Linked DNA regions of Homo sapiens: all the other regions are linked to region 6. Evidence: fine-mapped expression QTL. A gene starts in region 6. Each other region holds a variant in brackets. All regions are shown on one strand. Distances are between the middles of the regions. Region 1 overlaps ASAP2 (ArfGAP with SH3 domain, ankyrin repeat and PH domain 2). Region 2 overlaps YWHAQ (tyrosine 3-monooxygenase/tryptophan 5-monooxygenase activation protein theta). Region 3 overlaps ADAM17 (ADAM metallopeptidase domain 17). Region 4 overlaps LOC105373411 (a long non-coding RNA gene). Region 5 has its middle 2.7 kb from the start of ADAM17. Region 6 holds the start of IAH1 (isoamyl acetate hydrolyzing esterase 1 (putative)). Region 7 overlaps LOC101929643 (a long non-coding RNA gene).

Region 1 (4,068 bases), 210 kb after region 6:
GCAAAGGACTTAGTTATAGCGCGCACCTAGATGAGGAGAGAAGACGGTGACAGGAGACTGAGTTTTCGCTATCACCTGAAAACTTTACCACAAGGATATATTCACGTATGACTTGCATGGGAAAGATTAATAAATGATGAGCGAGAAGACAGCTCTGGGTGTACAGAGGAACAGCACATGAATACAGCCTGCTGGGCTGAATCACTGTCTCCAACACCCTGTGCATCAGCCACAGTGGCCGTCAGAGCTGGGGACTCATAATGAGAACAGCAGAGGCCCGGACACACTGGAAATGCCATCCAAGGAAGGAAGGTTCCTGATGGGGAAGGGGACAGTGGTGACGCCAGCACGGGCCCCCCCAGTCTCTGGAAGACATGCCTGCAGAAGCAAAACCTTTTCCCAAGGCCAAATACTAAAATATACCTCCCTCCTTCCCCACAAGTTGTTTCTGCAAAGAAGTTCCAGCAGTACTTGTGTTTATTATTATTATTATTATTATTATTATTTTTTTGAGACAGGGTCTCACTCACTGCCCAGGGTGGAGTGCAGTGGTGTGATCTTGGCTCACTGCAACCTCTCTTTCCAAGGCTCAAGTGATCCTCCCACCTCAGCCTTCTGAGTAGCTGGGACTACAGGTGCATACCACCATACCTGGTTAATTTTTGTATTTTTAGTAAAGATGAGGTTTCCTTAGGTTGGCCAGGCTGGTATTGAACTCCTGACCTCAACTGATCCGCCCGCCTTGGCCTCCTAAAGTGCTGGGATTACAGGTGTGAGACACGGCACCTGGCCTTCTAGCAGTACTTTTAAAAGGGAAAAAAATGGAGAAAAAAATACTTAACCTATTATAGAAGAACCAGGCAAACTGTGCCCTCAGCTGATGACCTCCAGACGGCCGTCAACTGTGCCTGAAGTGGACGGTGTCATGCGGTATGAACAGATAAGTGAGAAAAGAACCCATGTAGCTCTAAACCCACACACACTATGAAAAAACGACGCATGAACAACGAGAGGCTGCAGCCTCCTGCAGTTTAAGGAAGCAGCGCCCACAGGCACTCCCGGGAGGTCTGTGCCTCGGAGGCTTCGGTGGGAGCGCCCCATGGCTTTCATGGGCTTCGCCAGGATCCCTATCTTAGAGAAACGGAAACAGATGACAGTAAACTCCAATTCTGTCAAAAGGCTTCACATCCTGACTTTTATTTAGGGGGAAGAAAAGTCCTAGAGACTTTTCTGGGAGCTCTGGGGGAGTGAGAAAGGAAAAGCCACATTTTGGCAAGATCACCACTGCACAGCAGCAGCACAAACACGGCAGCGTGGGGCAGCTCTGGGCAGGACCCCCCCAGCCAGCCTGGTGCCCTGCTTTGGGGAGAGCCACAGTGGCACAAGGGGGCCTGGCCTGGGGTTCCCTGACACCCACATTACTGAGCTGTGGCCCCTGGGAATGGCAGGAGAGCAGACTCGAGGTAGAAAATGGACTAGCTCAGGAAAAGAATCACAAACAAGAGGGGACATGACACCAGAAGGTGCTGGGCACATTACTGACAGGCAGCAGGGACACCGAGACAGTGGAAAGCCAGCATGCAGCCACGGCCTGGGCCAGGCCCTCCAGCCGTGGCGATGCAGAAGGCAGCCGAGCTCAGAGTCTGGGAAGGTGACCTTCAGCTGGGCGTGAGGTCAGCCTTCCACATCTTCCCAGTCCCAGAAGACAATGGAATCCTAAGCCAGGCTGATTTCCCCAGGAAACGAGGCTCAAGCCACATGAACTTCACTTTAGTCAAATAAACAGGGGAGAGGAGATGTAAGATAGCCGAGTTTTCTTTCTGAACCCCGCGTGAAAGAGACTGAGGACTTTGATTCCTGAGGCCATGGAGGTCAGCCTGGAGACGCCATCATCACACCGTGTGCTGGGGCTTCTGTCCCAGTCGGCATGCCAGGCTCTGCCATCCAACTGGGCTGCCACTGCTGTCCACTAGCGGTCACATTTGTGTGCTGTGTTCCTTTAAAAAGTACACCTTGTGACTGTGAACAGAGGCTTTAAGGAATGGATGCATTAAAAATGAGAAAACCCAGTGCTGGATCCCTTTGGAGACAAGTGCATCAGTTACAAATCACTGGTTCTGGATTCTGGAATGAGACTGACTTGGTTCTAAACCAGGCTCCAATTACTAGCCGC[G/A]TGACCTCAAAAACGGACTCCACCTCACTGACTTCTGTTTCTTCATCTATAAATTGGGAATAACAATACCTGCCTCACAGGAGATCACCAATGCTTATGTGTCTGCCATACAGTCAGCACTCAATATCTAATAGTGATTACCAGTGTCCTCCAGTTCTCGGAGAGGCTAGGTGTAAACTACGCCAATTAAAGTGGCCGTTAAGAAGACGCTGTTACCCCAGGACCGTCTCAGTCATTACGACAAATACTTTTCAGGTCTGATAATGTTTAGAATGAGAAAAAAATCTCTAAGAACAAAAAGACTTTACAGCTTATACCAGCCTTTCATTTCCACTAATACATTTTTTTTTCCATCAACATTTAAATTTTTCAAAACTTCATACAGGCATGATGGCACGCGCCTATCATTCCCAGCTACTGAGGAGGCTGAGGCAGGAGGATCGCTTGAGCCCAGGAGTTTGAGTCCAGCCTGGGCAACGTAGCAACACCCTGTCTCTAAAAACATTGTTTTTCAAAACTTTTCCTGGTGTGCTCAGGTGTTTCTGACTCCCCACGGGGAGGGGCACATGGCAAATGGTGGGGTGAGGCGCTCTGGTCCAACTGGCCTCTCTCTTGAACACTGAGGGTTAAAGGAGCAGGGCATGAAACCCCAGGTCTTAAGTGCAGGGGTGAGTAGGAGTGGCCACCGGGGTGTCCACCCATCCCCTCCTCACCTACCCTGACTGAGGTAACCCCAGGTCTGCCCCTCTCCCACCTGGGACACCACCAGCGGGGCCTCTCCCCTGCATGTGGCAGTCCAGCCAGAAGGAACTCTGCCCCCTCCCTCCTACACTCGGCCACACTGTTAAAGGTTGGGGGCAGCACTGGGCAACCTCCAAAGCTCCCAAAGTGCTCCCAGGGAAAGAAAGGCCTACTGTGCCACTCAGCTCAGCTCACTAGCATTTGAGATAAATACTTTTAAGTTACCAAGGCAGCAGTAGGTGTGTACTCTAAAATCACACCTAGGGCCCAACTCCAACTACCATACAGCAATTTACACTCCACAGAGCACTTTTACTTCCATTATCTTTACTGCAATATTTACAACCACTTGTGAAATCACCACCTCTTTCCCCAGCTTAAAGGAGAAGAAACTGACTCAAAGAGTTTAAGTGACTTGTCCAAAATCATGTGTTTGGCTTTGAACCGATGAAATGCTGGGAGAGCTCCAGCCAATGGAGGGAGGACGGAAGGCAGCTTCCAGAGCTGTGCTCCCCCTCCCACTTCCCAACAGCCTCACTTCCAGAGCCAGAAGCGCTGGCTTTCTCTAACATTTGGGGAAAATAACCACCCGGCATTACCCCTGCTTTCTCTAAACCCTGTTCCACTAACCCCAGCCCAGCTACAGGCAAGGGGGCTGCTACTTCCACACCAAGAGTGCTGTCCACCCCTTCACCAAGAAAGCTGCCAGTGGCTCTCCTCCACACAAGCCAGCTCCTGCCACCCCAAGGGGCTGTCATACGGCTCCCAGCACACTAGCATTTGAAGTTCACCAGGGGCACAAGAATCTAAAGTTCACCAGGGACACAGGCACAACCCCCCTAACCACCCTGGGTAACCAATTCCTTGTTTCAGAATCTTCTGAAGGGCCAGGGTGGCGGAGAAGCAGATAGAGTAGGGGCAGGGTCATCATTTGCATGTGTCCAGGTTACACAATCCGGGGCTCTTCCTGGGCTTTTCAGAGGGAAAATTAAAACCCTGCTATCTTTAGTCTTTCATTTCTCCATCTTCAACTTCTCAGTTCCTGTTTCCCATCCAAAAGACTTGACCCCATTCCCCTATGGTAGAATGGGAAGCAGGGAGGAGAAAAACCCAGAATAGGGAAGGGAGAAGAAAGGCAGGAAGGAACCACCAGG
Region 2 (4,059 bases), 150 kb before region 6:
CCATAGATAAGTCAGTGATAAATATGATAAATTACTAGATTTGAAACTATTGTTTGCATATTGAGTATTTAAAGACAAAATGATGATAATACCTAGGACTTCAGAGTAATTGGGGGAATACAGATGAAACAGGAGTGTCTATGAATTAATATAGTTGCAGCTGGCTTTAATTGGAATTCATTGTACTATTCTTTGTTCTCCTGTGTACCTTTAAAATTCCCTATTATAAGTTTTTCCTCCCCTAGAAATTCCACTCTTAGGTGTTTACGCAAGAGGGAATGATGCATGGGGCCAAGGCGCATAGGTACAAAAATGTTAATAACAGCTTTATTCTAAGAGCAGAAAACTAGAAATAATCCACTAGTAGGAAAATTGATAAACACTGATGTATTCATAAATGGAATACTATTCAGCATTAAAATGAATGGACCACTGATACTACAATATGATTGAATTTCAAAAACATGCTAGGTGAAAGAAACTTTGCATGAAAAAGTACATAGTGTATGTGATTCCATTTATATGAAATTTTAGAACAAACACAACCTGTTTATGGTAGGAAAAAAAATCAGGAATAATGGCCTCTGTGGGAGAATAGGCAGAGATTGGGAAGGGGCAGGCTTCTGGGATAATTGTATTTTTTTTTTTTTTTAATACTTTAAGTTCTGGGATACAAGTGCAGGACGTGCAGGTTTCTTTCATAGGTATACATGTGCCATGGTGGTTTGCTGCACCCATCAGCCCGTCATCTACATTAGGTATTTCTCCAATGCTATTCCTCCCCTAGCCCCCGACGCCCTGACAGTCCCCGCTGTGTGATGTTCCCCTCCTTGTGTCCATGTGTTCTCATTGTTCAACTCCCACTTGTAAGTGAAAACATGCGGTGCTTGGTTTTCTGTTCCTGTGTTAGTTTGCTGAGAATGATGGTTTCCAGCTTCATCTATGTCCTTGCAAAGGACATGAACTCATCCTTTTTATGGTTGCATAGTATTCCATGGTGTATATATGCCACATTTTCTTGATCCAGTTTATCGTTGATGGGCATTTGGGTTGGTTCCAAGTCTTTGCTATTGTGAATAGTGCTGCAATAAACGTATGTGTGCATGTGTCTTTATAGTAGAATGGATAATTGTATTCTTTAGTTGATATGGGTTTGGGTTTTATACATTTGTCAAAACTCAGCAAATGTACACCCAAGATTTGTGCATTTTGTATGTAAATTTTGCTTTGAAAAAAAACTAGTGATATGCCTGTACTTATGTCTTCAGCTTGTAACTGCTAGAAATGTATGGGTATCTGAAAAAGCAAGTATGGCAAAAGGTTAATGGTAAGATCCAGGTGGTGGATATGTGGGGGTGTTCACTGTAATTGTTGGTTGCCATGTATTGGGGGTTATGATATTTCACATCACTGGTTGAGTGTCTTTAATACATATAGCAAGAAGATAGTGTGTAGCCTGTGTCTTGTTATCCTCAAGATACGAGAATGTATAGAACGGTATTGATCCCCACTTAGGAGACATCACTGGCACCATCACTTTTTTGTTTGGGTGATGAGTGCTAAGTAGATTGATGGAGTTACCAGATGCTGTGTAAGACGTCTTAATTGGCCATACTCTGGGACAGTGGTTCACAAATTTGATCTCAGGACCCCTTTTTAGAAAATAAAATAACTTTAACAAAAAATTGAATGAGAATAGCGGCATTGCATTTCATTCAACCTATTGTAGTATTCCACCTCCTGTAGCTTCTGGAAAACTCCACTTGTGAGAAAATGACAGTGGAAAAAAAGCAAATATCTTAGACTTATGAAAGTGGTTTTACTTTGTCTCCTCTCCACCCCACAAAGGATATAGGGGAGACCTCTAGGGGTTCCCAGACTATACTTTGC[C/T]CTATGAGAATTTAATTACTGAAGTTAATAGTAGAACTGCTGTTCTACGAGAATTTTATTACTGTGTTTGGGTGATTGAGCAGTTTATTTTCTGAGTAGTCATCATATGTGGTGATAATGGAATTTGTAAAACCTTCCCCACCCTTCCCATTTCTCTGCCCCTGCACCCCATCTTATCCCTAGGAATATAGGTTTGAAGACCAGGAAAATCACAGATGTGATAATGAAGAAAGGAGAATAGTTGATATTAGACATTGGGTAATAAAAGTCCCTGTTAATTCCTGGAAACCAGCTAAAGATCTGGTATGTTGGAATGTCTTTCTGCTTTCTTGTGTTGAGAAGGATAATATGAAGTTAATAATCTCTTAACTTGCCCCTCCCAATACCTGACCAAAAAGCAGAGTTGACATCCATGAAAAATATGGATAATGGTCTTTCAGAGCTGGTTGCATTTAAGTTTTAAAAATACACAGCTTTTGGAGGCAGTAAGTCAGGTTAGCTGTTAACCAGCATTGGTCAAAGTATTTATCAGTGAAACTTGTCTTCATACCAACCTTTGATTGTCAGTTTACATGTTTTTCTATCCAGATGAGTAGTATTTCATGATCTCTTTGTCATCTGGATTTTTACTACAGTATCCAGTTGGGTTTGGCACAGTGTGGTACTAAATACATATTCTGTACGATACTCTTCATTTGAACATTCTGTCTCCTGTACCTTTGCTACAGGCTTTACTTAGAGAAATGGAAAAATAATGGTGCAAGTGGTGAGACCATGATGATAAGAACTTACATAAATTTAAATGCTTTCTTAAAGGATGGTCATAGATTGTGAACGTCATGTCGCGGTGATTGGAGGAAATAAATGGAGAAGTGTGTGAAAATGCTTTAAAGCCATAAGCTATATGGATCATCAGATTAGACATTTTATTCCTGAATAACTCTTACTGCTGTTGTTCTTCAATAATTAGTACTCCATTTTCCCTCTTGTTTTGTACATTCCACCAAACATTACTTGAATGCAGCTCACAGGATTTTTGCTCTTAAAAGCTACAGTTGTTAAACCTCTGCAGTTAAACATATTTATACTAGGTGTTCTGATCTTTCAGCCTGGTACTGTTTCCAGTCATTTGGGAATATACTTTTTAGATCTTCAGTGCTAGTGTTTGCCCTCTTGGGATTCTGATGGATAAGAGGTTGGAAAGGTTACATTACGGATTTAAAATACTCTTGATTATTTGGTGCCTGATTGCAGAGACCACCATTTGGAAGGATAGAATATCCCATTAAATATAGCTATGCTCTGTGGAAGTTACTTTTTACATAATTAAATTTTTAATATATTTTTAATTTTTTTACATGTAACTCTTTGTTTTTTTGTGTATGTTTTTTTTTGGTGAGACAAGGTCTCCCTCTGTCTCCCAGGCTGGAATGTAGTGGCACGATCTCAGTTCACTGCAACCTCTGCCTCCTGGGCTGAAGTGCACATATAACATTTAAACATTTAATACCTTTTTTTGGTATTACTGTATTTATTGTTAGGGTTTTTCATGCCTTATTTCTTGCTGTTTTAAATAGTACAGTGTACACTGATGCAGTTTGAATAACTCAGCAGGTAGGATTTAAGGTTGTATACCTCTATTTTGTTGTTGACGATCAGCTGTACATCTCTGGAAGGTGATCCTTCTTATACAGATACCAAAAAGCACTTAGTGATTTATTTTTTGTCCAGGACAGGTTTCTGAACATTTCTGCTTGTAATCAAAATGGCCTGGTAAATGTTTATAAACTTATTTTAGCTATTGATGAAACTACTGTAGTTTTCTTTTAAGTTTATATCAGGATACCAAAGCAACATATTTAGCCCCCACGTCTGTTGAGTCTTTAAAGGACCTACTAAGATTATTAGTATAGATTCTCAAATATTATTTTTTCAGAAGGATGTATTCCTCTTTTTTGCTGTGGTAGTAGAATTTGTAATTAGAGTTTATGGAGAAAAAGGACTAAGGGGAAGGGTGGAGGTCACAAATTTATAAAAGCCCTGAACTATTTCTCATTTAACACGTATTCTCTGATCATTTTTTCTAGTGTGTTATTTTTGTTTGTTGTTTTGAACATCTGAAATAAACATAGGCTGGGCAGGGTGGCTCACACCTATAACCCTAGCAAT
Region 3 (4,068 bases), 41 kb before region 6:
CTCTATGGTCTTCTGTGCATGTTGCTTCTAAAGAATCTGAAGTCATTTTGAGTTCTTATCTTTGTTTGTCACCTGTTTTTTTCTCTGGAATATCTTAAGATCTTGTTTTTCTCCAGCTATGTCTGTTAAAATGTGTTTGACTACAAATAACAGAAAATTAAATAAGCAGTGGTTTAAATAAGGGGTTTATTTGTCTCAGTCAACAAGAAGTTCAGGGATAGCATTTTCTGGGTGGTACAGCAACTCAGAGGTACCCTCAGTGGCTCAAGAACAAGCAGGAAGTCTTTGTCCTCATGGATGTCACCTCATGGTTTTAAGATGGTTCTCTTCTGTGTTGGAGAAAGGAGGAGAAAGAGAACATGGCTAGCCTAGTCTGGCCCTTCTAAAAAGCTTCTCTGGAGGCCCCATCCTGGCTTTTGTTTATATGTTACTGGACAGCACTGGGTCCCGTGGCTGCCCTTAGCCTCAACGGAATGTGGAAAGCTGGCTATTTTAGCTGAGTATATTGCTGTCCTGGGCAAAATTAGGGCTCATTAAGTAAGGAAGAAGGGGAGAGAGATGTTGGTAGGACATATTAGTATCTGATATACTGATTTTTAATTTTTATTTAATTTTTATTTTTTTTGAGACAGAGTCTTGCTCTGTGGCCCAGTCTGGAGGGCAGTGGCACCATCTTGGCTCACTGTAACCTCTGCCTTCTGGGTTCAAGCAGTTCTCCTGCTTCAACCTCCTGAGTAGTTGGGATTACAAGCACCTGTCACCACGCCTGGCTAATTTTTGTATTTTTGTTTTAGAGACAGGGTTTCACCATGTTGGCCAGGCTGGTCTCATGAACCCCTGACCTCAAGTGATCCACTCACCTTGGCTTCCTAAAGGGCTGGTTGGTATACTGATTTTTTGACTATGATGTTATACTTGGTGTAGGGTATGGGAAAACATTTGCAAAAGACACATCTGAGAAAAGACTGCTATCTGAAATATACAAAGAGGCCGGGCATGGTGGCTCATTCCTATAATCTTCGGCACTTTGGGAGGCCGAGGCAGGAGAATCACTTGAGCCCAGGAGTTTGAAACTAACCTGGGCAAGATGGTCAGACCCTGTCTCTACAAAATTAAAAATAAATAAATAAATAAAAATTTCCATATGTATAAAGAACTGTTAAAATTCAACAATAAGAAAATGAACAACCTAATTTAAAAACAGACAAAAGAGCAGAACAGATACCTCCAAAGATATACAGATAGCAGAGAAGCATATGAAAAGATGCTCAGCGTCATATGTCATTAGGAAATTGCAAATTAACAATGAAGCTGGTTGTAGGGGTACATGCCTGTAGTCCCAGTTGCTTGGGAGGCTGAGGTGGGAGGATTGCTCGAGCCCAGGAGTTTGAGACCCATCCTGGGCAACATTAGTGAGATCCTATTTCTATAAAAAACTTTAAGAAACCCAACAACAATGTGCTATTACTAGTAGCTTATTAGAATGGCTAAAATCCCAAACACTGGCAACACAATTCCAACAAGGCTATGGAGCAACAGGAACTCTCATTAATTGCTAGTGGGAATGCAAAAATGGAACAGCCACTTTGGAAGGCAGTTGGCAGTTTCTTTTCTTTTTCTTTTTTCTTTTTTTTTTTTTTTTGGAGACGGAGTTTCACTCTTGTCACCCAGGCTGGAGTGCAATGGCGCCATCTCGGCTCACTGCAACCTCTGCCTCCCAGGTTTAAGCAATTCTGCCTCAGTCTCCTGAGTAGCTGGGATTACAGGTGCCCGCTGCCACTCCCAGCTAATTTTTGTATTTTTAGTAGAGATGGGGTTTCACCATGTTGTCCAGGCTGGTCTCGAACTCCTGACCTCAGGTGATCCGCCTGCTTCAGCCTCCCAAAGTGCTGGGATTACGGGTGTGAGCCACTACGCCCAGCCATAAGAATGTTTATGGCAGCTTAATTCATAATTGATAAAACTTGGAAGCAACCAAGATATCCTTTAGTTGGTAAATGGATAAACTGGCACATCCATAAAATGAGAAAAAAATAAAAAGCTATTAAGCCATGAAAAGACATAGAGGAACCTTAAAAGCATACTACTAAGTAAAATAAGCCAGTCTGAAAGGCTACATACTATATGATTCCAAATATATGACATTCTAGAAAAGACAAAACCATGCAGACTATAAAATGATCAGTGATTGCTAGATGCTGGGGGAGGGAGGGATGAATAGGTGGAGAGCAGGGTAATTACTCTGTATGATACTTCAACAGTCAGTATAAGACATTATGCATTTGTTGAAACACATAGAATATACAGCACAAAGAGTGGACCCTAACATAAACTGTGGACTTTGGGTGATTTAAAAACAGGTGGTGGCAGGAGCCTATAGTCCCAGCTACGC[G/A]GGAGGATCACTTGAGGCCAAGAGTTAGAGGCTGTAGTGTGATAAATGCAACTGTGAATACCCGCTACATTCCAGCCTGAGCAACTTAGCGAGATCCTCCTTTTCTTTTTTGAGATGGAGTCTCGCTGTGTCTCCCATGCTGGAGTGCAATGGCATGATCTTGGCTCACTGCAAGCTCTGTCTCCTGGGTTCATGCCATTCTCTTGCCTCAGCCTCCCAAGTAGCTGGGACTACAGGCACCCCCACCACCACGCCCGGCTAATTTTTTGTATTTTTAGTAGAGACGGGGTTTCACTGTGTTAGCCAGGATGGTCTCAATCTCCTGACCTTGTGATCTGCCCGCCTTGGCCTCCCAAAGTGTTGGAATTACAGGCGTGAGCCACCGTGCCTGGCCTGAGACCCTGTCTCTTTTTATTTATATATATATATATATATATATATATATATATATATATATATATATATATTTATATTTTAAATTTAAGTTCTAGGATACATGTGCACAACGTGCAGGTTTGTTACATATGTATACATGTGCCATGTTGGTGTGCTGCACCCATTAACTCGTCATTTACATTAGGTATATCTCCTAATGCTATCCCTTCCCCCTTCCCCCTCCCCCCACCCCACGACAGGCACCGGTGTGTGATGTTCCCCTTCCTGTGTCCAAGTGTTCTCATTGTTCAATTCCCACCTTTGAGTGAGAACATGCGGTGTTTGGCTTTTGTCCTTGCGATAGTTTGCTGAGAATGATGGTTTCCAGCTTCATCCATGTCCCTACGAAGGACATGAACTCATCCTTTTTTATGGCTGCATAGTATTCCATGGTGTATATGTGCCACATTTTCTTAATCCAGTCTATCATTGTTGGACAATGTTGAACAATAATGTAGAGTGGTATGAGAAAAGAAAAAGACACTAATTAGCTTTTGGGAATCTTTTAATTTCTTTTTTTCTTTTCTTTTTTTTTTTTTTGAGATGGAGTTTTCTCTTGTTGCCCAGGCTGGAGTGCAATGGTGTGATCTTGGCTCACTGCAACCTCCGCCTCCCGGATTCAAGCAATTCTCCTGCCTCTTTCTCCTGAGCAGCTGGGATTACAGGCATGCGCCATCACGACCAGCTAATTTTGTATTTTTAGTAGAGATGGGGTTTCTTCATGTTGGTCAGGCTGGCTCTCAGGTGATCCGTCTGCCTCGGCCTCCCAAACTGCTGGATTACAGGCGTGAGCCACCGTGCTTGGCCTTAATTTCTAAATTTATTTTTTTCTTATGGTACTTTGTTTTAGGGGAAAAAATCTCTCAAACTGTGTTTTCCCTCTATTCTCACATCACAACCATCATCATCAACACAGAAGACTTGTGTGACCAGACCAAACGTGTGGGGATTTCCCCCTACATATCAAGCAGTAGACATCAGCTAGGTGTCCTCCAATTCAATTCAAACACTCTCCACCCGGAAATAGTATCAGATCTCACAGTTTGAGGGCCCAGTCCCACAAGACTGACTGTTCCCTCCTCCCCACCAGTTACAAGTCTGAGCCTCCAGAACTTCTGACCAACTGGCTTCAAGTTGGGGTTTCCACATTCTCCTCTTTGGGTCTGATTAATTTGCTTAAGTGGCTCACAGAACTCAGGGAAAAGCTTAACTTAGTTTATGGGTTTATTACATAGGATATT
Region 4 (4,068 bases), 880 kb after region 6:
AGTGGGACCTCAGCCCTCTCACCACCACCATGAGACCCTCGAGAGGAAATGGGTTTGGTGGGAGGGTCTGAGTTTGGAGGGCTTGGAGAACTGTGGAGGTAAAACCGAGCACAGCTGGAGCGGGGTACTCTTGTCAGAAAGCAAGGGGCTTTGGGACAAGTTATCCAAAGCCAGGGGCGGCTCCCCACTTGCTGGGAACGCATAGCATTCTCTCGGGCTGCTGATGCTGGGCCTGGCTGTGGAAGGGGCCCCGTCCTGGGCCTCTGTTCAGAGGGTGTGCAGGAGGCCCTGTGGAGAGTGCTGGGCCGAGGGGCTGCAGTGCTGAAGTCACGCCCGGATGGGATTCCTGCAGCTCTGACTGGGGCTTTCCACCTGGGGCACCAGGGGCAAGCCCCGCCCCTTTGGGTGGCATCTCCCTGGGAAGGGACAGGCATGGTGGGCCTGCCCCAGACCCTTCCCTCTCTGACCGTCTGGCCTTCTCACCGGGGTTCAGACCCTGGGCTCCTCCCACCTGTGCCCCTGCCTTTGCCTTCTGGACTTTGTGTCTGCTTGCGCCCAGGCCCTCCCCTTGCCCCAGTGGACTTGGGTCTGGCTTCTCCCACATGGTGGCCTCTAGGAGCACCTGTGGCCCATTTTTAGCCCTCTGAACCCAACCCTTCCCACCAAGCTGCCCCAGCGTCCCCGAGGGGGCAGCAGACATGCCTTTTTCTGGTTAATCCTCCGGAGGGGACATGGGCAGGATATTTTCCTACAAACCAGCTGACCTGTATGCAGGTGAGGCTTCCTCAAATCCTCTAGCCCCAGTGATGGACCGGCGGCCGGAAGACTGAGGTGGGATCCTCGGAAGGCTTCCAGGAAGTGGTAGAAACGTTTCCAGAAAGGTTTAATTGTTCTTAGAGGCCACATCTTCCTCGTCTTGGAGATGGCGCCGCAGCCCTGGCTGTCTCCCAAACTAGAGAGCAGAGAGTCCTGCTTCCAGTCGCCGTCACTTAAGCCCGACATCCTCCTGCAGCCCAGTCCTGGTTATTCTCCCCAGTGACCTTTCCAGCCTCTACTCTGCTCCCACTCCCACCACCTGGGCTCAGGCCTTCACTGTGTATTGTATATTCGTTGTATATTGTATATTCGTCATGGATTTTATATTCTATATTGTAGAGCCATTGCATGTTGTATTCTCATCGTATGTTGTATACACACCGTGTGTTGTATATTCATTGCATTTTGTCTATTACATGTTGTATGCTAATCATCTGTTGTATACTCATCCATTGCATATTCATATTTCATATTCCTTGTATATTGTATATTGCAGACTCATATATTGTATATTTACATGTTGCATCCATCATAATTGAAGACTCATTGTATATGTCCATATGTTGCATATTCATCATGTTGCATACTCATGTTACATATTCATCATGTTTTGCATATTCATGTGTTGCATATTCATCCTATGTTGCATACTCAAGTGTTGCATATTCATGTGTTGCATGCTCATTGTATATTGCATGCTCACTGTACATTGTATAATCATCATATGTTGCATATTCATCTTATGTTGCATACTCGTCGTATATTTCATACTCACTGTACATTGCATATTCTTTCTTTTTTTCTTTTTTTTTGAGACAGAGTCTCTCTCTGTCACCCAGGCAGGAGCACAGTGGCACGATCTCAGCTCACTGCAACTTCTGACTCCCAGGTTCAAGCGATTCTCATGCTTCAGCCTCCCAAGAAGCTGGGACTACAGGTGCGTGCCACCATGCCCAGCTAATTTTTTTATTTTTAGTAGAGATGGGGTTTCACCATGTTGGCCAGGCCGGTCTCAAACTCCTGGCCTCAAGTGATCCACCAGCCTCGGCCTCCTAAAGTGCTGGGATTACAGACGTGAGCCACCACGCCCGGCTAATATTGTACACTCATCATATGTTGCATAATCCTCCTAGAGTGACTCACAGTGATGCAACAGGACTCCTGCGTGATGTCTTCCTATCAGGTCTCACTGTCTCCAAGTCAGCCCCCATGTCTCGTCCCAGTGCTGACTGTCCCATCTCCTGCTCTGTTTAACGGCCTCCTTTAGCCTAAGGGCCCTCTGCTGGGCCTTGTCCCCCAGCTTCCTCTCCTGCCTCTGTCACTCCTCCCTGGTTCGTGTGGCCCTTGGTGATGCCTGGCGGCCTCACTCTCCCGGCTTTACCAGTGCCTCTCTCTCTCTGCTGGGACCTGCCATTCCCACATTTTGGATCAGCCCCCAGGTACTTTTTGGAAACTAGCAATTGAGTAGTATGTCATGGGTTGCAGAGCCCCTCTGTGGACTTGACTGCTGTCCAGGGACTGCTTGTTATAATAGCATCTGAGTGTGCGAGTGGAATAAGGCCAAGAGAGGGTGAGTGAACAGCCCAGGGTCACATAGCTCCTAAGAGTTCAGCTGGGCTCTGACCTGGCTGCTCCGTGTCCTGAGCCAGGGCATTTCCATGCCCCTGCGC[C/T]ACCCCCATGGGATCCACTGACAGTTCTGCATTCATGGTCCTTGATTGTGGAACTGGATTTGCCCTCTGCCCCTCACTAATCAGCTAATTGCTGTCAGCCTTAGTCGGCCTGTGGTCCCTGGGGCTTACCTGGTTTTCCGTGGAGCCCTAACCCAACTGATCTCACTTCAGCTCTGCCTTTGATGGGGCGGTGGCAGATGGGAGGCAGATCCCTTCTGGTCCTTGCGAACCTGCCCCTATGTTCGAGAGGGCACAGGCTCAGGAGAGGGGTTTCCCTGGTCCCCATCCTGCTGTGCACTGGCCAAGACTTGGAATCCACACCCCAGTCCTGCTCTCTGCAGGCTTCCTCAGCATATCACAGGCACAATGGTAGCAGGCTCACACACACACACACACGCTCATACACATGGCACACACTCACACGCAAAGAGCCACACAGGGCCAACATGCTCACACACACTGTGTAAGTGTGCATGAGTGCACACACACCACACATGCAAACACACCACACATACAACACATACATATACACACCACACATATACACACACACCACACCACACATTACATACACCTACCACACACACCCCACACATACACACCACATATATACACACACACACCATACCCACATTACATACACCTACAACACACACCCCACACACACACACCCCACACCACATGTATACACACACACCACACTGCACATACATTACATACACCCACCACACACCCCACACATACCCCACCCATACACACATACCACACCACACATGCACATTACATACACCTAACCACAGACACACCATACACACCACACCACACATACACACCACACATATACACACACCACATCACACACACACATCACAGCACACAACACACACACCCCACATACACCCACACCACACACACCCCACACATATACACACACCAGACCATATATGTACCACATCACACACATATATCACCAACACCTACCACATATCATACACCACACATATACACACACACACACACACAACACACATACCGCACATACACCACGCAAACACCACACACATACACACATACCACATATACCTGCCACACACACCACACACAGAAACAGACACTACACCACACCACACACACACCACACCACACCACACATACACCTGCCACACACACACCACACAAACATAGACACCACACATATACACACACACCACACCACACACACCATACATACACACCACACATATACACACACACACACCACACACACAATATACACCACATTCATTCATGCCCTTCCCACACCGCATGTGTACACCACACACACACACACACACACACACATACCCCATACCACACATTCCCTCACACACACACACACACACCCCTAAGTGCACACACACTTACAAACGGTCTGCATGTTCACACACACTCGCACTCCTCTGGTCACACATTGGCCCAGGAAACAGGAACCCCTGGCGGGTTCCCAGGCAGCCTCCGCCCTGCCAGGCTCCAGGGTTCCATTCTGAGGGCCCATCGTTAGCCCGGGCAGCCGGGTGTCAAGATACCCAGGTCACTTCCTAGC
Region 5 (4,068 bases), 84 kb before region 6:
GGTGAAACCCTGTCTCTAAAAAAAAAAAAGAAAGAAAGGAGACTTTATAACAATTAAAAAAAATTCCCCCCAAAATCATCTGTTCATCAGTGAGGATCTGCAGATGTCTCTGCTTTGTCCCATGCATATTTGTCATTTTTCTAAAAGGTTGATTTTGCCCGGGCACGGTGGCTTATGCCTGTAATCCCAGCACTTTGGGAGGCCGAGGTGGGCGGATCATGAGGTCAAGAGATTGAAACCATCCTGGACAATATGGTGAAACCCCGTCTCTACTAAAAATACAAAAATTAGCTGGGCGTGGTGGCGCATGCCTGTAGTCCCAGCTACTCGGGAGGCTGAGGCAGGAGAATCACTTGAACCCGGGAGGCGGAGGTTGCAGTGAGCTGAGATCGCGCCACTGCACTCCAGCCTGGCGACAGAGCAAGACTCCGTCTCAAAAAAAAAAAAAAAAAAAAGGTTGATTTTTTCTAAAATGGGTTAAAATTTCTTAACCAAAACCTTAGAAATTAGAGTTCTTGGCACATGACTTTGTATAAAGTCCTATTTTTCATTAAGTGGCATCTGTTGTCTTATTTGTGGGTTGACTCATACTTAAAGCGACTGCTTTCCACAGATTTGTTCATCAGCAAAAAAGCATACAAATGCAGGAATAATTACCATTTTAGAAACAGTGAGGATGGCTCTATCCATCTATAAAAACTGGTGGGGTTGGTGTAAGACAAAATTGGCTAATAAGAGAAATAGAGCTAGAGAAATAGATAGAAGGAAACAAAACACCCAGCCAGAACCAGTTAGTTCTCTGGTCATTTAGACAAGGTTTTACTGGTACTTGTGTGGGTTTGGTAGTTAACTGCAGAACCATATGTGGCTCATGTGTTTAATAACTGCAAATGTTTACTCTTAAATTCACTTGCGGTATCTAAATTATGAATAATTAATTCCACAGCATGGGATTGGGGAACCTCAGGAAATATTTTTAATTATCTTTATTAAATCCTAAATTAAAAGCATCACTTCAGGTGTTAAGAACCCAGGATCCCATCAACTTGTTTACGTATTTTTTTGAACAGATGATAGTGGCTGTGTAACAAATTACCCCTAATTTAGGAGCTTTAGAACCACGAACACTTATCTCCCAGCTTCTGAGGCTGAGGAATCTGGGAGTAGCTTAGTTATAGTCAGATGGTAGGTCAGGGGCTGCAGTGATCTTAAAGCTTGCCTGGGGCTGAATTCCTTCCAAGCTCACTCACATAGTCTTTGGCAGCTCCTTGGTGTTTGTTGGCTGCTGACCTGTTCTATTGGACCTCTCCATAGTTTTCCTGAGTGTTCTCATGACATGAAAGCTGGCTTCCCCCAGAGTGTGTGATTCAAGAGGAAACAAGCAAGCAAGAGAGCACCTGAGATGGAGGACAGAGTTTCTTGTGTCCTAACCTCAGAAGTGACATCACTTCGGCTGCATGCTAGTGGTCACAGACCAACTATGGCCCAGTGTAGAAGAGGAAGCAGGCATCATTGGGGGCCATCTTGGAGGCTGGGCTACCACTGTGGCTGTCAAATCTTTGAGGTATTTATACTCTATTGGAAAACTTTAAAATAATGACCTAACAGCTTTAATTTTAAATGTCAGTATTTATGCTGAAAGTTTCATAATTTGCTACTACTACGCTAATGATGAAAAACTTTAAAGATACACCTAGGGGGTA[T/C]ATAGTTGTTTTTTTTTTTGAGATGGAGTCTCCCTCTGTCGCCCAGGCTGGAGTGCAGTGGCGCTATCTCGGCTCATTGCAACCCCCACCTCCAGGGTTCAAGTGATTCTCCTGCCTCAGCCTCCCAAGTAGCTTGGACTACAGGCACGTGCCACTGCGCTGGCTAATTTTTTGTATTTTTAGTAGAGACGGGGTTTCACCGTGTTAGCCAGGATGGTCTTGATCTCCTGACCTCGTGATCCGCCTGCCTCGGCCTCCCAAAGTGCTGGGATTACAGGTGTGAGCCACCACGTCTGGCCAGGGGGTATATAGTTTTAAAAAATTATTTTGGTGCTGAGTGCAGTGGCTCATACCTGTAATCCCAGCACTCTGGGAGGCCAGGAGTTTGAGATCAGCCTGAGGAACATAGCGAGACTCCACTTCTATAAAAAAAATGTAAAGATTAGCCAGGTGTGGTGGTGCATGCCTGTGGTCCCAGCTACTGAGGAGGGTGAGGCTGGAGGATTGCTTGAGCCCAGGAGGTCGAGACTGCAGTGAGCTGTGATTGTGTCACGGTACTCCATCCTTGGCTGCAGAGCCAGACCGTCTCAAAAGATAAAAGAGCCGGGCGCGGTGGCTCATGCCTGTAATCCCAGCACTTTGGAGGCCAAGGCGGGCAGATCACGAGGTCAGGAGATCCAGACCAGTCTGGCCAACATGGTGAAACCCTGTCTCTACTGAAAATACAAAAATTAGCTGGGCATGGTGGCGCACAACTGTAGTCCCACCTACTTGGGAGGCTGAGGCAGGAGAATCCCTTGAACCTGGGAGGCAGAAGCTGCAGTGAGCCAAGATCATGCCACTGCACTCCAGCCTGGCAACAGAGCAAGACTCCGTCTCAAAAAAAAAAAAAAAAAAAAAAAAAGATAAACTAATTAATCTATCCAGTGCCCCTCTTACCATATTCCTTTGGCTCTTTATCTCCCCCACGTGGTGCTCTTTTATCTTAAAAGTATGCACAATTGATAAATGAAAGATGAACTGCAAATTGGAATAATTTGGGTCCTGATTTGTGAATTGAAAAGATTACTTGAAATTTGGAATGTCCCTGGAAATCTAGGACTTCTGGTTATTCAGGCCAGGCGCGGTGGCTCACGCTTATAATCCTGGCACTTTGGGAGGCCGAGGCGGGTGGATCACCTAAGGTCAGGAGTTTGAGACCAGCCTGGCCAACGTGGTGAAATGCCATCTCTACTAAAAATACAAAAATTAGCTGGGCGTGGTGGCGGGCGCCTGTAATCCCAGTTACTTGGGAGGCTGAGACAGGAGAATCGCTTAAACCTAGGAGGTGTTCAGTCGGTTGTAGTGGGCCAAGATCACGCCATTGCACTCCAGCCTGGGCAATAAGAGCGAAACTCTTTCCCCCACCACCCCCCCCCAAAAAAAAGAAAAGAAAATGGATCGGGATTTTTTTTTTAAACGGCATTTACTAAACAGCTAAGTACCTTCTATGAGCAAGGCACTGTACAAGAGCTGTTGGGGATACCAAAATAATACAATCTACGATCTACTAAAGTTACAAGCCGGACATTATGGTGACTGGATGTTCAGAAAAGAAACCAGATGACATTATTATGGTACACCAAAAAAGCCCCCCAAAAACCGTACTCAACTGTCACATTCTTATGGAATACAATTTTTACAGATTGTATACAATTTGCATGTGAAATTCTGCTTACTTTTTGACTAGGTATGCCACTAATGGGTATGTTTAATAAAGATATTTTATACTTCAGATGTACAGACCAGGTCCGGTTAATTTTAGCCAACAATGTATTGTTGAAAAAGACGCTGATATTTTACTGCGGCAAACCACCATTAACATAAATTTTAACCACAGTTTGAGTATTTTATTAGGAATAAGCCTTGAAACTTGAATAGGACTAGTATTCCTAACAATTTACCGTTTCATAATAAAGGCTGTCTCACTCTTAAGTGGAAAACGTATTATGTCCTACTTTTATAAACTTTGGTTGAACTAAATAAAACAGCAACATGTACCCAACGTTTTTAGACTGTTTTATTCAGTACCATAAACATTCACTAAACTATACAGAGCTAAAATCATGCAAAAGATTGCAAAACAAACTGCCTTGGGAAATTTCCAGTCTAAGCTAAATGGACCAAGTATAGGATTGAATTTTAAGAAGTTGGTGGGAAGATTCCAGCTCTTGTACTCACAGGTAAGGTCCTAGGATTCTATTTGTTGAAGTGTCTGCAGACCCTCTCCCTACAGCAGGGGCGTGGAGCAAATGTGCATTCAGGAAGTGCTTATTAGTCCCCCCAAAACCTTTTTCGTGACGACAGACGGATGGAGGCCTCAGAC
Region 6 (4,068 bases):
GGTAGAATTGTGACAAGGTGAGTCTTAAGTCATGGCAGCACTTCAAAAAAAGGCAAAGTAGCTTCCTACCAGTGTGGTGTAGCAGTGAAACTGCAAGTTCTGCAGTCATAGCAGCTGGACTTGGATCTGTCTGCCCCTGACTAGGGAAGAGGCCTTGGCCATTTCCTTGATTTGTCTGAGTCTACCCAGCCATCAGTGCTCAACCCTAAAATATCTAATTGGTCAGACTGAGTGAAGAGTAAATGTTTTCTGTTCCTTCTCCTATATACTGATTAGGGGAGGCAAGCAAAATTAATAAAGGAGGAATGTTCTGTTCAGAACTATCCTTCATCCATAAGACGGATCCCTAAGACATTTTCCATCCATAAGAACTCAAGTATCGGAAACCATTCTCACCTGACCAGCCTGTCAGCCAGCGATGCTCCCCATCCACCCTGCTGGAAGGAAAACTGGAGGAAGAAAAGCCCATTATTACTACTAATGACTGTAACCGGGCATCTCAGCGAGGGCAGTTCTGATTGGCAACTTCTGTTTTCTCGGCGCTCCCTTCTTGGCTTTGATTGCTTCACTCCAGGAGGTCATTTTGGGGATTACAGGTAAGTACACCTGGCAGCACTTTAGCAGAGGGGGATTTTTCTCTATCAAAAGCTAAACAGCCTGTATTCCCAGCACTTTGGGAGGCCAAGGCGGGCGGATCACATGAGGTCTCGAGTTCGAGACCAGCCTGGTCAACATGGCGAAACCCCGTCTCTACTAAAATTACAAAAATTAGCCCGGTGTGGTGGCGCACGTCTATAATCCCAGCTACTCGGGAGGCTGAGGCAGGAGAAACGCTTGAATCCGGGAGGCGGAGCTTGCAGTGAGCCGAGATCGCGCTACTGCACTCCAGTCTGGGCGACAGAGCGAGACTCCGTCTCAAAAAAAGAAAAAAAGAAAAAAAAAAAAAAGCTAAACAGAAATCTAAGTTCAGGAAATAAAGTCAAAGGTCAGTGAGGAAATGAAGGCCACACCGCCTCACTGCTTTGCTGGTTACCGAGCTGAGGGTGAACACTTTTTCATACACATTCCCATGGAATTCGGCAGCTCTGACTGCCCCATATGCCTAAACATAATGTTACCAGTTACTGGCGTATACACAAAAGCCTGGTGAAGCAAGTCCTGTCTGAGAAGAGGACACACACAGGAATGGAATTTCTACTCCCTCCCCGAAGTAAGAACCTGCATTTAGAAGACCGTTCCCTTCATGGGAGGTGAGATGATCTTGGATGAACGGATGGTCCTTTTCTACCTAATTCCTGAAGGCGTTTTACTTCCAAGGTCAACCCCTAACGGCCCCACCTGTGCCCGCAGGGAATGGGGCGAGAGAGCTCCTGGCGCCTCTGCCCGGAGCTGGCCGCGGGGCCTCCTGGGACACAGCGCGCGGTCGCCCGCGGCCGCTAACCCGGACCCGGAGGGGAAAGGCCGCTGCCCAGGAGGGCGCTGAGGGGAAGACCGCGCATCTCGACCCGGGTGGGAGGCGGCGCGGGGCGGGCAGCGCGGCCGGGTCCCCTCGCGTCTGTGCCTGGAGCCCGGGCTCTCGCGGACGCCGTCGTGACCTCCGGGACGCCGCGGGCCCGGAAGGCGCAGCCACTGGGGGACCCGCCACTCCTCCGGTGTCTCCACGGGCGTGGCCAGGCCTCCGGCCCAGCCGTCTCGGGCGCCGAAGAGGACGGCGAGGAGCCTCGGCCTGCTCGGCAGCGACCCCGCAGGGAGGCCGGGGCGGGAGGCCGAGCGTCGGGGCGGCCGTACCTGGGTGATGGAGTCCCCGAAGAGCAACAAGCGAGGCCAGAGCAGGGCACTCCCGCAGCCCGCGGCCTCGCACAGCGCCATGGAGCAGCCGGGCGGGGCGGGGCGGGGCCGCCAGCCACGAGAGGCGCCTGCGCAGTGGCCGCCCGTGGGTTGCGGGAGCCGGGCTCGTGGGCACCCACGCAGTCACTTTGGTGACGCGCGAAGGTCGTTGCCCCTTGGAGTCCGTTTGCAAGAAGCTCGGCCTCCGCGCTTGCTCACCCACAGCAAGGCTGCCCCCAGGGAGTCCGGAGCCCGCGTCCCGCTGCGTGGTTCCCGGAAGAAAAGCGGTTGGGGGCCCTTCTAAGCCCACCCCGCGCTCCGCGGGCGCAGGTGCGTTCGGCAAAGGGCAGGAGTGTGACCTCAGGACGCGCGGCGGGAAGCACAGCTGGCTCTCGGTGGGGCGGAGGGCTGCTCCAGGCCCCCCTGGAAGAGGTCGTGGGATGCGCGCGCGGCCTCCTGCGCCCAGCGTCACTCTGGAGGGCCTGTAACACCCACGAGGACGCAGGCACTGCGGAAACCCTGGCAGTACCTCGTGGTTCTGCGAATGACAAGGGAAAGCAGCTGCACCTTCAGTGCGCGCGCAGCCGGCCGCTTTTCTTTTTCCCGCCGTGGGGTGGATGCGCAGATGCAGAACCCCGCGGACACGGAGCACTGACTAACTTCCAAGGGATTCACCTGTTAAAACGTGGTTGTAATGCAACGTTCTTACCTCAACTGTGCAATGAAGTTCGGCAGCCGAGCTAAAAACGAACGGGTGGGAAGGATGCCTTGAAATCACGGAGCTGTAGATGAGTAACAGAAGGGCCAGGGGCGCCGGCGCAGAGGCCGACCCCGCTCCCTGGGGCGGGGCGATGGGCGTAGAGCATGACTTTCTTTAGGTTGCTCGTCCCAAGCTCGCTTGGATCACCTGGGGGAGCTTTACAACTAAGATCCAACCTAGGGCCCTCATTCCAGCCGGACTAACTCACCTCCTGGTGGCAGGACTTGGGCACAGGTGCACTTGTGATGCACCCCACGTGATTCCCACGGGTAGCCCAGATTGAGAGCCCCTGCTAGAGCAAGCAAAGGTGCCTGGACTTCATCTTTATCACAAGGACTTCATTAAGGCCTTCAAGCAGCAGAGGCTTGAGGCCAGGTCTGTTCCAGGAATCAGCTATAGGGGAGGAGATGGAGGTGGTTGCAGGAATTCAGAGGGGAGAGTAGACTTGGACTCGAACAGCAGCAGTGGAGATGAAGACAGAAAAGATTCAAGTGCAACTTAGAATCCTTATTATTAACTCAAATTGGTTACCCCAGAGGAGAGGGTAACCAGCAGCGGTTGCTATCGGCAGATCTTGATGGTTTCAATGGGAGCTGCACATACATGCCTGGAAGAAGAATCCAAAATTCTAAAATAATGGGCAGTTGATCTAGTAGTTAGTTCTAGAATAATGGACAAATTAATTAGCAATTTAGCAGTATTCAGGCTGTTGAAATAAAGGCCATTTGACATTAAAAGTAAACAGGCTCCCCCAGAGAAACGAATGCATTTTATTTTAGGTAACAAAAGTAGAGTCAAGTATTTTTTCAAAGTTCATATACAGGCACAGTCTCAGTGAACTGGCGTCAGGGCCTCGTACAGTCTCTGTGCAGCCAGCTCCACCATTTCTCGGAGGGATTCATCGTCTTCACTTCCCTCTTCACATTCTACAGTCTGAAAGTGAGGCACAAACAAGACTGTTAGAATTAAGTCTATAATGATTATATAGAAGATAAATGAATACTCTTTAAAAAAACCATCATCTCATAAAAAATTAGCCAGCTGTGGTGGCGTGTGCCTGTGGTCCCAGATAAGAGTCTGAGGTGGGAGGATCACTGAGCCGGGAAGGTTGAGGCTGCAGTGAGCTGTGACTGCACCACTGCACTCCAGCCTGGGCGGCACTGCGAGACCGGGTCTCAAACTAAAAAAAAGAACAATCATCTGTGTGTGCAGAGGTCATGGTGGGACTGATTACCATGAAACAGAACGGCCGCCCTACACACTTGTGGGCGTGCAGTGCTTCCTGACAGCAGCACGGTCCTAATTAGTGATGACTTGAGGCTGGGGTGAAAGACTGGGGAAAGTCTAGTAAACTACATTTACATCAAAGCCCACAGTTTGATCTAGTAAATGATACTCCAGGGAAGTTCATCTATGCCACACAAATTACTTGGCAAGGAATGGATGTGGCTATCTACTCAACATTTGGTACTGAATTTGAC
Region 7 (4,068 bases), 100 kb before region 6:
ACCTGGGAGGTGGAGCTTGCCGTGAGCCAAGATCGCACCACTGCACTCCAGCCTGGGTGACAGGGCAAGACTCCGTCTCAAAAAAAAAAAAAAAAAAAGAAAAAGAAAGAAAGAAAGAAATAATTGGCCGGGCGCGGTGGCTCACACCTGTAATCCCAGCACTTTGGGAGGCCGAAGTGGGCAGATCAGAAAGTCAGGAGATCAAGACCAGTCTGGCCAATATGGTGAAACCCTGTCTCTACTAAAAATACAAAAATTAGCCAGGCATGGTGGCAGGTGCCTGTAGTCCCAGCTACTCAGGAAGCTGAGGCAGGAGAATTGCTTGAACCCGGGAGGTGGAGGTTGTAGTGAGCCGAGATCACGCCACTGCACTCCAGCCTGGGTGACAGGGCAAGACTGTCTCAAAAAAAAAAAAAAAAAAAAAAAAGACACATTTTTCTTCCTGTGACAGCTTACACTTGAGGATGTATAGATAACAATGTTGAAAACTAGAAAAAGTCCCGGGTGCGGTGGCTCACGCTTATAATCCCAGCACTTTGGGAGGCCGAGGCGGGCAGATCACCTGAGGTCAGCCTGGCGAACATGGTGAAACCCCCGTCTCTATAAAAAAAAATAAAAAATTAGCCAGTGTGGTGGCAGGTGCCTGTAATCACAGCTACTTGGGAGGCTGAGACAGGAGAATTGCTTGAACCCGGGGGGCGGAGGTTGCAGTGAGCCGAGATTGTGCCATTGCACTCCAGCCCTGGCAACAAGAGTGAAACTCCGTCTCCAAAAAAAAAGAAAACTAGAAAAAGTTTAAGTCCAACTGAGATTTAACTTCCAGTGTAGCCTGGTTTTCTTTCTCCTGTCAGAGGTATAGAGGAGTTAAAGCACTGAATTAAGCTAGATTAACCTTCACTTTCCTGTGGAAGTGTGTACTGGAAGCTGGCATTCATTGCAAAGATCTCTGCTATTCAGTAATCTTGTGGGCTCTACTCTCCACCATTGTATGGGAGTAACTCAGGTCCTTTAGTCCTTGAAGGAAGCCAGACTATTTGTTTCTCATTTTCTACTGACATTACCAGGTTTTTTACCTATCTGAAATTTGTTCTGAGAGTTCTTTCTCCATTCTAGCCCTGTGGGTCTTTAGATAAGGCTCTGTGTTTCAGCCATGTCGCCATGCCATTCTCCTTGACAGGTGGTGCTTTTTTGGGGGGGGTTGGGGAGGAGGGTAGAGACAAGGTCTCACTATGTTGCCCAGGGTGGTCTTGAACTCCTGGCCTTAAGCAGTCTTCCCACCTCGGCCTCCCAAAGTGCTGGGATTACAGATGTGAGCTACTGTACCCAGCCTGTGTATGTGATGTTCTTTCAGTTATTCCGGAACTTGGTACGCACCTTGGAGGATTCATTGGCAAGATTTTGGAGACCACTGTGTTCTAATACTGGTGGCAACATCACAACTTGGGAGCTAGGAAAATAAATGGGACAAGATTATTAACGCTTTTTGGAGCTAGACTTGTCTATTCCCACAACTATGTAACATGAGAGATTGTGTGATCTAGAGATAGAAAGGACCAGCCAGAAACTGGGTGCAGTGGCTCATGCCTGTAATCCCAGCACTTTGGGAGGCCAAGGCAGGCGGATCACTTGAGGTCAGGATTTCGAGACCAGCCTGGCCAACATGGTGAAACCCCGTTTCTACTAGAAATACAAAAGTTAGCTGGGCATGGTGGCGTGCACCTGTAATCCCAGCTGCTTGGGAGGCTGAGGCAGGAGAATTGCCTGAACCTGGGAGGCGGAGGTTGCAGTGAGCCGAGATCGTGCCACTGCACTCCAGCCTGGGTAACAGAGCGAGACTCCATCTCAAAAAAAAAAGAGAAAGAAAACCAGCCTAGAAGTCAAAGATCTGGCTTCCATGGTCATTCACATACTTGTTAAATATATTGAGCGCTTGTTATGAGTCAGGGACTGAAGTAGGTACCAGAACTTTAAACTTCACTACTTTATAGCTATGGCTTTAATCTCACTGAGTTTCTGTTTTACCTTTTACAGATAAAAGGTGGACAATCTATCTAGCCTGCAAGCCAATGTGTGAAAGTATTTCCAAGTGTAAAGGGCTGTGGAATGTATGTAGTGGAACACTCAAGTGGGAAGGAAGTTAGCAGGATAGCCTAATTTTGGAACTAGAAAGTTCTAATAAAGTGAAACCAGTCTTGTGGATAAGAAAATCAACAACACTGAGCAGACCTATTGCCCTAGATTTTCAAGGGCATAGTCACAAAAAGAAAATGACGGTGTAACTTGGGAATGC[G/T]AAGTTAAAAAAAAAAAAAGACAATTAAGCTGTGGTTTTGCTTCTAATTAGCACTCTCTGATGGAATACAATGGGAAAGGTCATTCTGTTGAAATAAGTAAAGAAAAATCAGGACCCAGAGAACAAGTGCTAAAAGGAAATGCCTTTGACCAAAAACTCAGTCACTTACCAGCAGTTAAGTCTTGACTAAGGAGTTTTGATTCAGTAAGTCTGAGGTAGGGCCCCATAGAGCATTTGTATTTTTAACAAATTGATGCTGATGCTGCTGATCAGGACCTGGTACTTTGAGAACCACTGCTTTAAGGAAGCCTCAATAATGAAGGCCAAAGTAAAGATCGGGTGAGTTTCACAGCAGAGTAGTAAAAATAAGTCAGAGGGCTGGTTGTGTCTGTAGTCCCAGCTACCAGCCACTAGGGAGGCTGAGGTGGGAGGATCATGAGGCCAGGAGTTCAAGGCTACCCTGCACTATGATAGTGCCTATGAATAGCCACTGTACTCCAGCCTGGGCAACATAGCGAGACCTCATCCCAAAAAATAAAAATAAGTCAAAGGATTTTGGGTCTGAGTCCAGCACAGTGTTGAAATCTGTGCCCGAGGGTCTTCCTCTTCACCAACTGAAATTAATCGGGATATATATATATGTAACAGCATAGGTGGCTCGTGTTAACTCTGTCCCCACCCCCTTTATTTAGTCACTGCCCATGTTGACTCTTTTGTATTAAAGTAAAAATACAGTTTTATTCAAATCCTGACCAGATAGATTTCGTGATGTGAAAAGATGCCAATGAGATGAGTTTGAGAACTGGTCCTTAAGGTCTGTAGTAAAGAGGCCAGGGATCTGACTGGCAGAGAAATATGAGGTCAGACATCTGCATTTAGTATTCATGTGAGGTCAGTGTTGATGGAGATTAGCCTAAAGCTTGAGACAGGAAACCAGGGATATATACAGAGGATGGGCAGGAGGCTCAGCAACTTGTTTGGGCATCATGTGAGCTGGCTAATGGTTGTAAAGGTCAGGTGAGTCAAAGTAAGAACCCAACTGTCCTATTGCAAGTTAGAGCATTTGAGTTCATTCCCTCTATTCCTCTTCACTGGTCCCTCCAGTTTCTACATGGTTGATTTAAAGCAAACATGAAAAAGCTTTCACTCTTTTTTTAAAGACATAATAGTAATAATATGTAGGCATTTAGTATTGTGTTGATGCATTTCATTTGTTTTTAGGGTTCAGGGCTGTAGAGAAAGAATCAGCAGAAAACTATTTCAGGCCAAACCACAAGTGTTTCTTGCAGGGGAACAGATAACCTGAAGTGATCTCTGCAAGTCTTGCTTAAATTTCCAGTAGATGGCATAGTGAAAAGGGTAGAGAAGTAGCATTTTAGTCTTTGTTGGCCATTTCCAATCCTGTGTTTGGCAGCAAAGCATTTGAAGACATAAAAGAGTTGGCCTTGCCTCTCAAGTTTATAGTGTGGGGAGACAAAATGAACACATGGGACATCACACACGCTAAAACTCAATGCCCGTTCCATGGCGGCAGCTCAGATGCAATCCAGGAATGAAACATACACAGTTTGTAAAGAGAACTGTCAGTTTCAGAATGGGAGAAGAGTGCATCCTGGAGGAACGCGTAAGAAGTAGGATGATTCAAATAGCATAGTATGTTGTCCAGGAGTTTTTTTTAACCACCTGCTACTAGGAGTTCCCAAAGTAATAGGAACTTCCTTAGATGGTTGTTAATGAAGGGAAATGAAGTCAGATGTCTCTGGATTTGAATCTTGACT

Evidence for each region.
Region 1: its variant is fine-mapped to the expression of IAH1 in whole blood (TOPMed, PIP 0.94).
Region 2: its variant is fine-mapped to the expression of IAH1 in blood mononuclear cells (TOPMed, PIP above 0.99).
Region 3: its variant is fine-mapped to the expression of IAH1 in whole blood (TOPMed, PIP above 0.99). The same link has a PIP of 0.9 or more in lymphoblastoid cells.
Region 4: its variant is fine-mapped to the expression of IAH1 in testis (GTEx, PIP above 0.99).
Region 5: its variant is fine-mapped to the expression of IAH1 in whole blood (TOPMed, PIP 0.98).
Region 7: its variant is fine-mapped to the expression of IAH1 in whole blood (TOPMed, PIP 0.96).

The regions. Positions count from the first base shown.
Region 1 is chr2:9,260,634-9,264,701 of GRCh38, reverse strand. The region is part of intron 1 of ASAP2 (ArfGAP with SH3 domain, ankyrin repeat and PH domain 2); the gene reads right to left. Among named protein-coding and RNA genes, the nearest start is that of ASAP2, 56 kb to the right of the region's middle. The variant G/A (reference allele first, on the strand shown) is at 2,174.
Region 2 is chr2:9,618,776-9,622,834 of GRCh38, reverse strand. All of the region lies in intron 2 of YWHAQ (tyrosine 3-monooxygenase/tryptophan 5-monooxygenase activation protein theta), which reads left to right. Among named protein-coding and RNA genes, the nearest start is that of YWHAQ, 10 kb to the left of the region's middle. The variant C/T (reference allele first, on the strand shown) is at 1,891.
Region 3 is chr2:9,513,310-9,517,377 of GRCh38, reverse strand. The region is part of intron 10 of ADAM17 (ADAM metallopeptidase domain 17); the gene reads left to right. Among named protein-coding and RNA genes, the nearest start is that of ADAM17, 40 kb to the left of the region's middle. The variant G/A (reference allele first, on the strand shown) is at 2,393.
Region 4 is chr2:8,596,369-8,600,436 of GRCh38, reverse strand. It overlaps LOC105373411 (a long non-coding RNA gene), which reads left to right. Exons shown (of 3, transcript XR_001739274.1): 3 at 1-1,568. Among named protein-coding and RNA genes, the nearest start is that of LINC01814, 15 kb to the right of the region's middle. The variant C/T (reference allele first, on the strand shown) is at 2,487.
Region 5 is chr2:9,556,448-9,560,515 of GRCh38, reverse strand. No RefSeq gene overlaps it. Among named protein-coding and RNA genes, the nearest start is that of ADAM17, 2.7 kb to the right of the region's middle. RefSeq lists silencers at 3,762-4,056, 4,028-4,068. The variant T/C (reference allele first, on the strand shown) is at 1,704.
Region 6 is chr2:9,472,368-9,476,435 of GRCh38, reverse strand. It overlaps IAH1 (isoamyl acetate hydrolyzing esterase 1 (putative)), which reads right to left and starts at 1,885. Exons shown (of 6, transcript NM_001039613.3): 1 at 1,789-1,885; 2 at 397-449. The coding sequence starts at 1,869. CPSF3 (cleavage and polyadenylation specific factor 3) reads right to left here. Exons shown (of 18, transcript NM_016207.4): 18 at 3,335-3,520. The coding sequence ends at 3,419. RefSeq lists enhancers at 266-826, 1,307-2,074 and a silencer at 1,344-2,113.
Region 7 is chr2:9,572,694-9,576,761 of GRCh38, reverse strand. LOC101929643 (a long non-coding RNA gene) reads right to left here. Exons shown (of 3, transcript XR_922777.3): 3 at 1-1,447. Among named protein-coding and RNA genes, the nearest start is that of ADAM17, 19 kb to the right of the region's middle. The variant G/T (reference allele first, on the strand shown) is at 2,291.